Linked DNA regions of Homo sapiens: region 1 is linked to region 2. The links come from fine-mapping of genetic effects on gene expression. A gene starts in region 2. The other region holds a variant in brackets. All regions are shown on one strand. Distances are from middle to middle. Region 1 overlaps TM9SF3 (transmembrane 9 superfamily member 3). Region 2 holds the start of TM9SF3 (transmembrane 9 superfamily member 3).

Region 1 (5,379 bases), 29 kb after region 2:
GCTTGTCAGAGCCTTTTAGCAACTGTCAAGCTATTTCTGTTGTCTTAGGCTTAAAAATAGTAAAAATGAGAGAGAAATTCAGTGTAGGTAGCCTCTGCCAGTTATTGCCTCATAGCTGGAATGAGTCCATTGCTAGTAGTCAATTTTGAAAGTTTTTCAAGCCTTGTGCATATGTACCTGATGCAAATAATCCTTATATAACTAAACTTAATGAAAAAATTTTATAGTTGTAATAAAAGTAATGCAGTCTAAAAATAAAGATTTACAGATTTTTTTTTATTATTCATTCAAATATTTATTGAGCAGCTAAGGAGATACGAAGGTGATTCAGAACATGGTCAGAGGAGAGGCGAATGTGCAAGTAATAGAAAGCAAAGGGCAAGGTTCACTGAATCACAGCAATCAGAAGAAACTGCTTTAGGGAACCAAGAGTGAGATTGTTTCCAGCCTAAAGAGGCATCCATGGCAGATCAGAAAAGGAGATTGAGATTAAAATAGAAGACTTCAGTCTGGATTGTTGATGATACTCAGTATGGACTATATTTGTCTCTCCTTTTCTTTTCTCCCCATCTTTGGGCTTAATTTACCAGTAGTGCCCTGAACTGTTCAATGCACTTTTTGTATACTTGCTTGCATTTTTGCTTTAATGTTTTCTACAGAACTAGGTCCTTTTGGTGTTTTAGGAATTTTTTTTCCTGTTTTTGAAGGATTTTTGTCCTTTTGATCTTAGTGTTGATAGTTTTGAGTCTTTTCCATTCTGATTTGACTTTTGTGCATTTTTGGCTGGATTATCTCATGTAGATTTCTTCACTGGTGGTTTTTCTTTAGTTTCCTCATCAAAATCGTCATCATCATCATCATCATCTTCATCAGCAGCAAGTTTTACTTTTTTCTGTGGAACCTTGCTACCACCTCCAGGGACAGATCACTTTCCAGATATCCTTAAGAATTTCGCCTCCTCCTGTTCATCTTCTGATTCTGCATCTTCCTCCACAGCTACTAAATGCTGTCCACTAATATACACTGGCCCTGAACCACACTTCAACCATAAAAGCACTGGTGGTGTGATTTCAAAGCCCCCAAGGGAAACCGTTGGCTGTGCAGACATTTTCAAAGGTGCCAGTGTTATTTAATTGGACTGCCTTCATAATTCATTGCCTCTGCTTCAACAATATGCAATTCATCCTTTGCACCAGCCCCTAAACTGACCGTTCTTAAAGATAATTGGTGCTCATTTTCATCATTATCCACCTTAAAGTGATCATCTTTGTTGGCCTTTAGTTCACAACTGAAAAGATAGTTCTGGGGCCTCAGGGGGCTCATGTCCATGTCCATCGAATCTTCCATGGGGTGGCAGCACGCATTTAGGTGGGAAAGAAGGCAGACGGAGATAAATGACTTCTGCTCAAGAGAACAGCCACGCAGGACAGAATTACACCAGGCAGATGTACAGATTCTTATTTTAATTGATTTAGACACTTGTGATATGAGCTTATACTAATTCAGTTCATATCACATTTATCAGGTCATAATATGTAAGTCAACAAAAGTAAACAGTCCTTGAGAACTGAAATCACCCCTCTGAGGAAAGTTGTTAAGTTTTGTCAATAAACAGAAAAGTTGATTAGTTTTATCATAATCGTTTCCACTTCTCATGTTGTAAGTAACTTTCCTCCATTTCTCTAGTGAATTTTAATTCTAAGTGTGTGTAAATCTATATTTTGCTCAGAGTTTTGTCATCAGATTATTAATTTGTTTACTGGCCTTTATTTTCAAATGAAAAAATTTTTTTTAGGTAAAATGGAAAAAGTCAGATGTGAAATTTGAAGATCGATTTGACAAATATCTTGATCCGTCCTTTTTTCAACATCGGGTAGGTAAATAGTGTATTTTAAGACATTGATTATGTGCACCAATTCGTTCAACAAACATTGAGTATCTGTCATTTGCAGGGCACTGTGTTGAGGACTGTGGATTAAAAGATTTAGCTAATGGTGATTTAAAGTATGAGCTTGAAATCATAAGGGTGATGGGGAGTTTTAGAGGAGCAATCAAAAACTTCCTTCTTTGTGCTTGTGGTTTAAACCAATTAAGAGATAAACGAAGAATATAACATACGGGAAGCCAAAATATCACTAATAAGGTGAATATTAGATGGCTGCGTTGCACAATGAATAGCGCATTGGCCTTCTAATGAGGTGAATATTGGAGAATGTGGCTTATATCTATCTGTGATCAAGTGGGCTTCTTACTACTGAAACTCAGAATTAGACTTAACACACTCAGAGAGTATATTATAGGCTTCCCTACATGGGCACTTGCCCTTATACAACTTACGGTGTGAGAAAGAACAGAATGTATGCATCAGAAGGAGGTAATGAGAGAACGGATTGAGATCAGGAATTTCTGCTTGTGGAAATCCTTCCATGTAGAAAGAA[A/G]CATCAAGAATGGGAAGAAATGGCCTCCCAGTTCCCCAGCCCCCACCGACAGATACTTGCTGAATTTTAGTTCATAAAGCCGGTAGCATTAGTGTTGGTTTTGTACAGGTAGTTTTGATTCTTTATAGCAAAAATCACACTTTGTTTTGGTGGTTTCCTCCTCAAGGATGGAGATAAAAAGACAAGGCATAAGGGTATCCCTTCTTCTGAATTTCTTCCTGAATTGTTGCTTCTTTCTTTTGATCTAATCTTTTGGACTAGAATTTTAAAGTTTATTAATCACCTATTTTTGAGATGGCCCGTAAGTTTTTGTTGTCTCAGATTTACATATTACTGTTAGGTTCCATTCTTAGACTCTACCGGAACCTATCACTACTTCTGATCTTACTCAGGGGTCAGAGATTTTAACAATTAAGCTATTTGGAATTTAGTCTTTTTTTTTTTTTTTGAGACAGAGCCTTGCTCTGTCCCCTGGGCTGGAGTGCAGTGGCATGATCTTGGCTCACTGCAACCTCCGCCTCCTTGGTTCAAGCGATTCTCCTGCCTCAGCCTCCCGAGTAGCTGGGATTACAGGCACACACCATCATGCCCGGCTAATTTTTGTATTTTTTTTAGTAGGGGTGGGGTTTCACCATGTTGGTCAGGCTGGTCTTGAGCTCCTGACCTCAAGTGATCCACCTGCCCTTAGCCTCCCAAAGTGCTGAGATTACAGGCGTGAGCCACCGCGCCCTGCCTGGATTGTCTTTACTGAAGGATTTAGCATACTACTCTTGGAGCTAAAATTTTTCCCCTACCTCAATCCCCACCTCAACCCCACCTGCTGTGTGTTCTCCTCGAGTATAATGCTCAGGCAATCTTCAATAGGGTATGGACACAGATAATTTCAAGATTTAGATAACATTTGAGAATATGAAGGCTCTTAACTGGCACTCACTACTGGAACTCTTAGGTCTGCCTTGATTCTAGCCCCACTGGACATTGACAACTTAGGGGAAAGACTGCCTTTTAGTATTTTCACTATGGAATGGTATACTGTATTTATTACTTCAACACATATTAATTGAGCACCTGCTATCTGCCAAGCACTGTATTAGGTAAGTAGGATACATTAGAAAATAAAGGCAAAGATCTATACCCTCTAGGAACTTACGTTCTAGTCAAGGAGACGTGAAATAAACACAATAAGTAAAACACACTTTATTCAAAGAGAAGTGTGTCAAAAAAGAAAAAGTAGACAGCAGAACAAGAGTACCAGGGGTCGGGTAAGTTGCAGTTTTATATTATGTAGTCAAGGTAAGCCTCTGAAATGGATTGTTGAGCAAAAGCTTGAAGGAGTTGAAGGAAATAAAGAATGTGGATATTTAGGGGAAAGAGTATTCCAGGTGGAGGCAACACCATTGAAAAGCCTATTAAAGTGAGGATATGCTTACTGTGGTTTGAGGACTAGCAAGAAGATGAAGTCAGAGAGGTAGCAGGAGCCAGATTATCCATGGTCATTTTAAGGACTGCAGATTTTACTCTTAAATGCAAAGGGGGCAGGGGAGCACTGTAGTGTTTTCAGCAGGGGGGTAACAAATCTGACTTTTGTTTTTAAAGGATCAAATTATTATGTGGGTTCAGGAAGTCAAGGGTGGTAGCAGGGTAGGTGATGAAAAGATGTTAGATTGTGAGTATATTTTGAAGTTAAAGCTGGCGGCATTTCGTGATTGATAGGAAGGTGAAGAAGGGTTGAGACAAACTCTAGGGTTTTCAGTCTGAGTGGAGCTGACATCACTGGGGCTGTATTTGGAGGAGATTTAGAGGGGAAGATTAGGGTACAGTTTGGGACATGTTCGTTTTGGTGTGTCTGTACGATATCCAAATGGAGATATTGACCGGCAAATTGGATATATCAGTTCTGGAGTTCAGGAGAGAGGTCTGGGCTAGAGATACAAATTTTGCAGCAATTGGCATATAGATCATATTTGTGGCTATGAGACTGGATGTAATAATTGCTAAGGAAGGGAGATGTAGAGAGAGAAGAGGACCAAGGACTAAGCCCTGGGTGCAGTAGTAAGAGTTTAGGAAGAACAGGGGAGTTCAGTTAAGGGCTTTGCGGGGGAGGGGAAAGTATGGTGTTCTGAATGCCAAGAGAAGAAAGTGTATCATGGAGGATAGAGAGATTAGCTCTGAATTTTTGCTGATGGGTCAAGTAAGATGAGCACTGAAAAGTGACTATTGGATTAACCTGAAGTCATTGGTGAACTTGACAACGATTTTGGTATAATGGTGGGGCATTCAGAACCTGAACAGAGCTGCTGTAAGAGAGAATGGGAAAAGAGGAATTGGAGACGGCAATTATGGACTTGTGAGGAGCTTGGCTGCTAAAGGGAGCAAAGAAATGGTGCAGTAGCCAGTGTGGAAAATGGAATTAGGAGATTTTTCTTTCTTTTTTTTTTAAATGTAAGAAAAACATTAACTTTATATGCTGATGGGGTTCAGTGGAGATTGCAAAACTGGCAATGCAGGAGAAAAAGGAGAGAAATACTGCATCGTTTTCCTTAAGTAGAAGGAAGGGATATGATGTACTGTACAAGTATAAGAATTGCTTCTAATACAGTGACTAATAGCACAGGCAAAGGAGCTAAAGCTGAATTCAAACTGATGCTTTGCCGCTTACTATGACCTTGGTTAAATGATTCAGTTCTTCAGCTTCTGTTCCCTTAATAGTGAAGCAAGGATTATAGTACCTTGCAGAGCTGTTGGGGAATTTCACGTTGATATAAAGCACCTAGTTCAGTGTTTGGCACATAGCAGGTAAGAGGCAGTATTGTTGGTATAGTTATTTATCTCCAGTTGCATTCTAAATTTATGACAAATTGAGGGTGCAGCTTCAGGATTAGTGACACTAGAGGGTGCTGGCATGCAGCATTAGTAGGGTTAGTAAACCCCTTTGTGACAC
Region 2 (5,379 bases):
GCTGTATAGCCACTGGGGGAGGTGGGAAATGCCTTTCACCGGCATTTTCTCCCCACCGCTGCCATCCTTTTTGGTGTCAGGGAATGAGGTCATTCACCCAGATGAAATAAGTGGTGAAATAAGGTATGTTAATGTTTTTCACTCCCCAGTTTAGTGAAACAACCCTAATTTTGATGGTGACCTGAGCCCTGTTTTGTCCTGTTGAGGTCATCAGGCACCTAGGATCTTTGAAGCCACACTTCTTTTACTCTAATCAGTTACTTTATCTCCCTTTCCTTCTTTCCACACCTACTGCTGTCAGACTTGTATCACCTAATGCCATTTATCAGCATAATTCCCCTAGTACCTACCAGAGTGCCTGGTACATAGTAGAGGCTTAATAAATAATCGTTGAATTAATGGCTCTACCTGCTCTTCCATCCATTAAATTTTCCCAAATACTCCTCTGAAATAGGGTTTCTTTCCACTTCTCTCATTGCCCATTGCTTTTACTGCCTGTTGACCATTTGCACAGTTGGCCAGCTTTTGTGTTCCTTTTTAAAAGTACACTGTCATGCCTGTTCTTTGTTGTGTGTGTAGTTTCCTGGTTTTAATCTATCCTCCCTAAATGAATATACTTTTTCTTGTGTCCTCCCTACCTCCAAGCATTTGCCAACCCAGTCCTCCCCAAAACACCTGCCACATGCATACTACCTCAAATCTGTGGAGGGTGGTGATGGATACTTAAGAAACTACACATCCATCTTAATGTAGCACTTACACGGCTTGTTCTTCAATTGCACATCATCACTTCATTCAAGAGCAGTGATTATTCATTCACAGAATTGACTGAGCTTTCACTATGAGCAAGTCACCCTGCTAGGTGCTCGGGAGGATATACAAAGATGTATAAGATGCCTCCTCTGATTTCTACAGCAATTACTGGTGTATGATTCATTCAGCAATTAATCATGTACTGCTTTGTGATGTTTCTTACACTATCTAGAAAGCATTCTTCAAATCTTGCTATGCTATTTGACTTTTCACTTGTTAATGTCTTCATTCATTCAGCAAAGAGTTGAATACCTATGATGTGACAAGCACTATCTCAGCAGCTGGGACAGATATAAAGACAAACAAATCATAGTCCCTGCAATCAAAAAGGTCCGAATGCAGTGTAGAAGAGGAAATGTGAATAGATAATTACAACACAACACGCCAAATGCTATTGAAATCCCAAAGAAGGAATGCTCCATTTCTCAAGGGATCATGCAAGGTTTCACTGAGGAGGTGATCATCAGCTAGGTCTGAAAGGATAATATCTAAGGCACAAGGTGAAGCAGAGCATGCCAGATAAAGGGAGTATAAAGAGCAAAGGCACAGAGGTGTAAAAATATATACGGGTGAATGCAGAGCATAGAAATTGGTGGAAGGTAAAGTTAGGGAAATAAATTAGGGATAAAATAGGCAAAAATTTGGACTTTATCCTTTAGCAGGGAACTTTTTTTCTGATTACATAGTTAGCACATGCTCACTGTAAAAAATAACCAAACATTTATAGGCATGTACAAAGTAGAAAGTTAACCACTGATAGTAGTTTGTTATAATCTTTCAGATTGTTTTCTATGGGCAGACTAACATATTGCCATATAAAATGAAGTTAAACTCTTATTTTCTTCAACTTGAAAATTTAACAGAACCTCTTGGTTATCATTCCATGCCAGTACTTACCTATTTCCTTTTTTTAAAGTGGCTGTATAGTTGGTAAATCATTACCAGCAAAAAGACCTATTATGGAGCCAGACTGAGTGGGTCTGGTGTTTCAGCAAGCCACTCAAGCTCTCTGTGCTTCAGTTACCTCATCTGTAACAGGAACATTTTCACCGTACCTGCTGCATAGGGTTTCTGTGAGAATTTAATGAGCCAATATCGTTCAGAATAGTGCCTGGCAGATGAACGCCCTCGTGGTGACTCCATGATTTATTTACCTAACATTGAAGAACTGTTTTAAGCAAGGGAGTGAGCGATATAATCTGGTTTCTTTTTAGAATAAAAAAAACATCACCCTGGCACCTGTTGGGGATGTTAAACGGGAGGAAGATCAGTCAGTGATGGATATCTTCTTGTGAGACTCTTGCAATACATAGTGATACGGAAGACTGGTTGGTACTGGCAGAGGAAGGAGAGGAAAAATAAACTCTTGAACCACTTTTAAGAGACCAAATGCTAGAACTTGTTGACTGCTGATGGCTGAGAAGAGACAATCTGACAAGTTCGAGATTTTTGGCTTAGTGGCCTGTGTAAATGGTGGTGCCACATTCGTATATTTTTTTTTTTTTAAAGATTTTTTGTTTCAGTGTCTACTACGGATCTGGCACTGTTCTAGGTACAGGAAATACGGAAACAGGATCTCTGCTCCGAGGAGCTTACACTCCAAGAGATATTTATGACTGGGAAGAGGAGACCCAGAAATAGTTAAGTAAACACATAAATGAACAAGAATGGCAAGCTAACTTAGCATGTCTTGATTGAACAGTAGGGGTCCAGTAAATATTCAGTAACTTTAAAACATCCAACCCTGTACGAGTTTAACAATCTCTCCTAACGGTGATTACAGGAGCCCGTGATTCATTCACAGCGGCAGACGAGCGCCAGGAAAGGGTTATTTGATCTGATCCCTCAAGTTCCGGAGGCAGCAGGTCAGACGATCGGCCCCATTTGGCAGCCAGGAAAAAAGCTTAAGCATTTTGGCCAAGGTTACACAACCCGAAACACCGGGACGCGGCCCGGAGGCGGCTTCGGCCTTGCGGTCCAGGCTAGGCCACTGCGCCGGGGCCCAGCCTGCTCGGCGCCCGCCCGAGTGCTCGGCAGGCCCGTAGCGCCGCGGCTCCCAGGAGCCGAGGGGCAGCCGGCGCGCAGGCGGCGGTTGCCGGGCCCTCCCTCGGCCCGGCGGCGGTGGCGGCCCCGCGTCGCGAGGCACTTCCGGCGCGTGCCGGGGTGGCCGGATGACGTGGCTGAGTCAGAGGAAGAGGCTGAGGAGGCGCGGGGGGCGGGGGAGGCTCAGGAGCGGGCGGTGACGGCGACGGCGGCGGCAGAGGAGGCAGCGGCTGGGCCGGGCCCCGTGCGTCTGTCCGCGCCCCGTGGATGCGAATCGGCCGCGGCGGAGGCGGCGGCGGCGGAGGAGGCGGCGGCGGGAGGAGGAGTCGGTGAGCCGGCTCCGGGCCGGAGGGGCGCGGAGGATGAGGCCGCTGCCTGGCGCTCTTGGCGTGGCGGCGGCCGCCGCGCTGTGGCTGCTGCTGCTGCTGCTGCCCCGGACCCGGGCGGACGAGCACGAACACACGGTGAGGCGCCCCGGCCGGCGCGGCCGCCCCGGGCTAGCTCCCCAGTTGCCCACTGAGGCAGGCCCCACGCAGCCTGGAGTGCCCGGCGGCCCGGTGGTGCCCCACTGCGGCCCGAGGACTCCTTCCGGTTGGGCCTGGCGGAGCAGGAACCTTGGGAGCGTGGAGGAGGCATTTCCGTGCGCTCCCGGGACAGGGCTCCGCTCCCGAGTGACAGGGTCTCCTTCCCCCGGTCTGGGCCTCAGTGGCGCCGCACCCCAGGGTCTCGGGGTTCCTGGGACCCTGGGGCCAGGAAGGAGCCTGGGAAGGGTTGAGGTTCATCCACCGCGGGAGCGGGGCAACGGGCAGGCTGGGCTCGGGGCTTTTGCCCCCCAGGGAAGGAGACTGCCTTCTGGCTACTGAGGGCTGCGACGCCGAGGAAGATGGATGCATCGTGATTACCCGGCAGCCACTAACCAGGAAATATCCTACACTTTATGGTCTCCTTTGGCTTTTATCGCCCGCTTCTGCCCAGACCGGATTAAAACCCTGGGGTGGGGCAGCATTAATAAACTTGAATTGAAGAGCAGTTTATACTTACTTGTAAGTGCACCCAACCTACACGCGTTCAATTCCTAGGCCTTTCTTGTAACTTTCTCCTCACCTTCCAGCCCCTAAGTGAGACCCCCATCCCGATAGTCTCTAACTAAGGCAGCTTCTGACAGTAAAGGGTCTTGACGTTTCCCAGTCTTCAGGTCAGGGCCAGAAACAGTCCCTTTTGCATTTGGCCTAAAGGTGATTGGCAGTTTGTTTAATTGGTATTCTCACATCAAAACGTGCATGTGAACGACTCTTCAAATGGCTTTCACTTAGGGCTGTAACTGTGGTTTTCAGAGTGGTAGACTTGAGCAAGGCAGGAAGGTCAGGTAAATTGAGAGTTTGCTTGACGAGTAATTGTTTTTTATACCTTTACCATTAATGATAGGAGTTTCTATGAGAGACTGTGTTTGTACTAAATCAGAACGATCTGAGGGAGTCTTATGTCATTTCTGGTAAGTGAGGAAATGAAGCAGTCGTCCTTACCTATTTAATGGATCCGATTTTATTTGTAATCAACAAAACTTTTCGCTGGATCCTTGGCTAGCTGGGATCTTATTTTAGCTAATAAAAGCTCTAAACTTTTGACTGTTCTACCTTCGGTCACAGCCAGAAACTTCTTACCTGTGTAGGTATGTATTTCTTTAGAGACACAAATCTCGAATTGGTGACATGTTTTTGTACTGTACTTGTGGTGTTTCACCTAAGATAATTTTGTTGGGAGGTTAAACAGCTTAAAACGATTTCCTTTTGTGTTCTTTCATCAGATAAGCTGTCTCAAAGTTTAAGAACTGCTATTGTTTCACATAGTATACAGGGACCATGTATAGATTTGGGTCTTTGAGTATTTTTAAATTTTCAGTGGGCATCCATCCTTCTGTTTAATGATATTATTACTAATATATTTCCAATTAAAAAAACACTTAGGAAAAGTTACCATATGAAACTCAGAACTCTCAATGTGTAGTTCCGTGATACAGGCATATAAGCTCAAAAGTGTACTGTATTCTACTTTTTAATCTTGTAATCTTGTGACTTACACTGCTGTGATTAGGGAAACCATTAAAATTTTACAAATTGGGTGTATATAAAGGCTTTAGAATAATTTACAAATTAAAAGTGTAATTTCAATGCAGTTTTATTGCTAGGACTATTTCAGTTTTTTATTCTAGTAATTGCATATAAGATATTTGATAAAAGGTTTTTGTTGACTGCCACGAAAGATAATATGGTATATATGAGATGGTTGCTAGACAAAAAATTTAGAATCCATATTACTTCATGTCTATATTGAACTGCTCTTACTTGGTTACCCATTATTAAATACCTATTATTTATTTATTTATTTTTGAGACAGAGTCCCACTCTGTTGCCCAGGCTGGAGTGCAGTGGTGCTGTCTCACATCACTGCAACCTCAGCCTTGCGGGCTCAAGCGATTCTCGTGCCTTAGCCAAGTAGCTGGGATTACAGGTGTGCGCCACCACA

Evidence for each region. PIP is the estimated chance that this variant, and not a neighbour inherited with it, causes the effect.
Region 1: its variant is the best candidate, but not a certain one, in a credible set for the expression of TM9SF3 in whole blood (TOPMed, PIP 0.74).

The regions. Positions count from the first base shown.
Region 1 is chr10:96,556,153-96,561,531 of GRCh38, reverse strand. It overlaps TM9SF3 (transmembrane 9 superfamily member 3), which reads left to right. Exons shown (of 15, transcript NM_020123.4): 5 at 1,796-1,873. It also overlaps the pseudogene NPM1P26. Among named protein-coding and RNA genes, the nearest start is that of TM9SF3, 28 kb to the left of the region's middle. The variant A/G (reference allele first, on the strand shown) is at 2,439.
Region 2 is chr10:96,584,675-96,590,053 of GRCh38, reverse strand. TM9SF3 (transmembrane 9 superfamily member 3) reads left to right here and starts at 3,042. Exons shown (of 15, transcript NM_020123.4): 1 at 3,042-3,320. The coding sequence starts at 3,219. It overlaps LOC105378443 (a long non-coding RNA gene), which reads right to left and starts at 2,990. Exons shown (of 3, transcript XR_946220.4): 1 at 1,711-2,990. RefSeq lists silencers at 809-878, 2,813-3,382 and an enhancer at 1,875-1,934.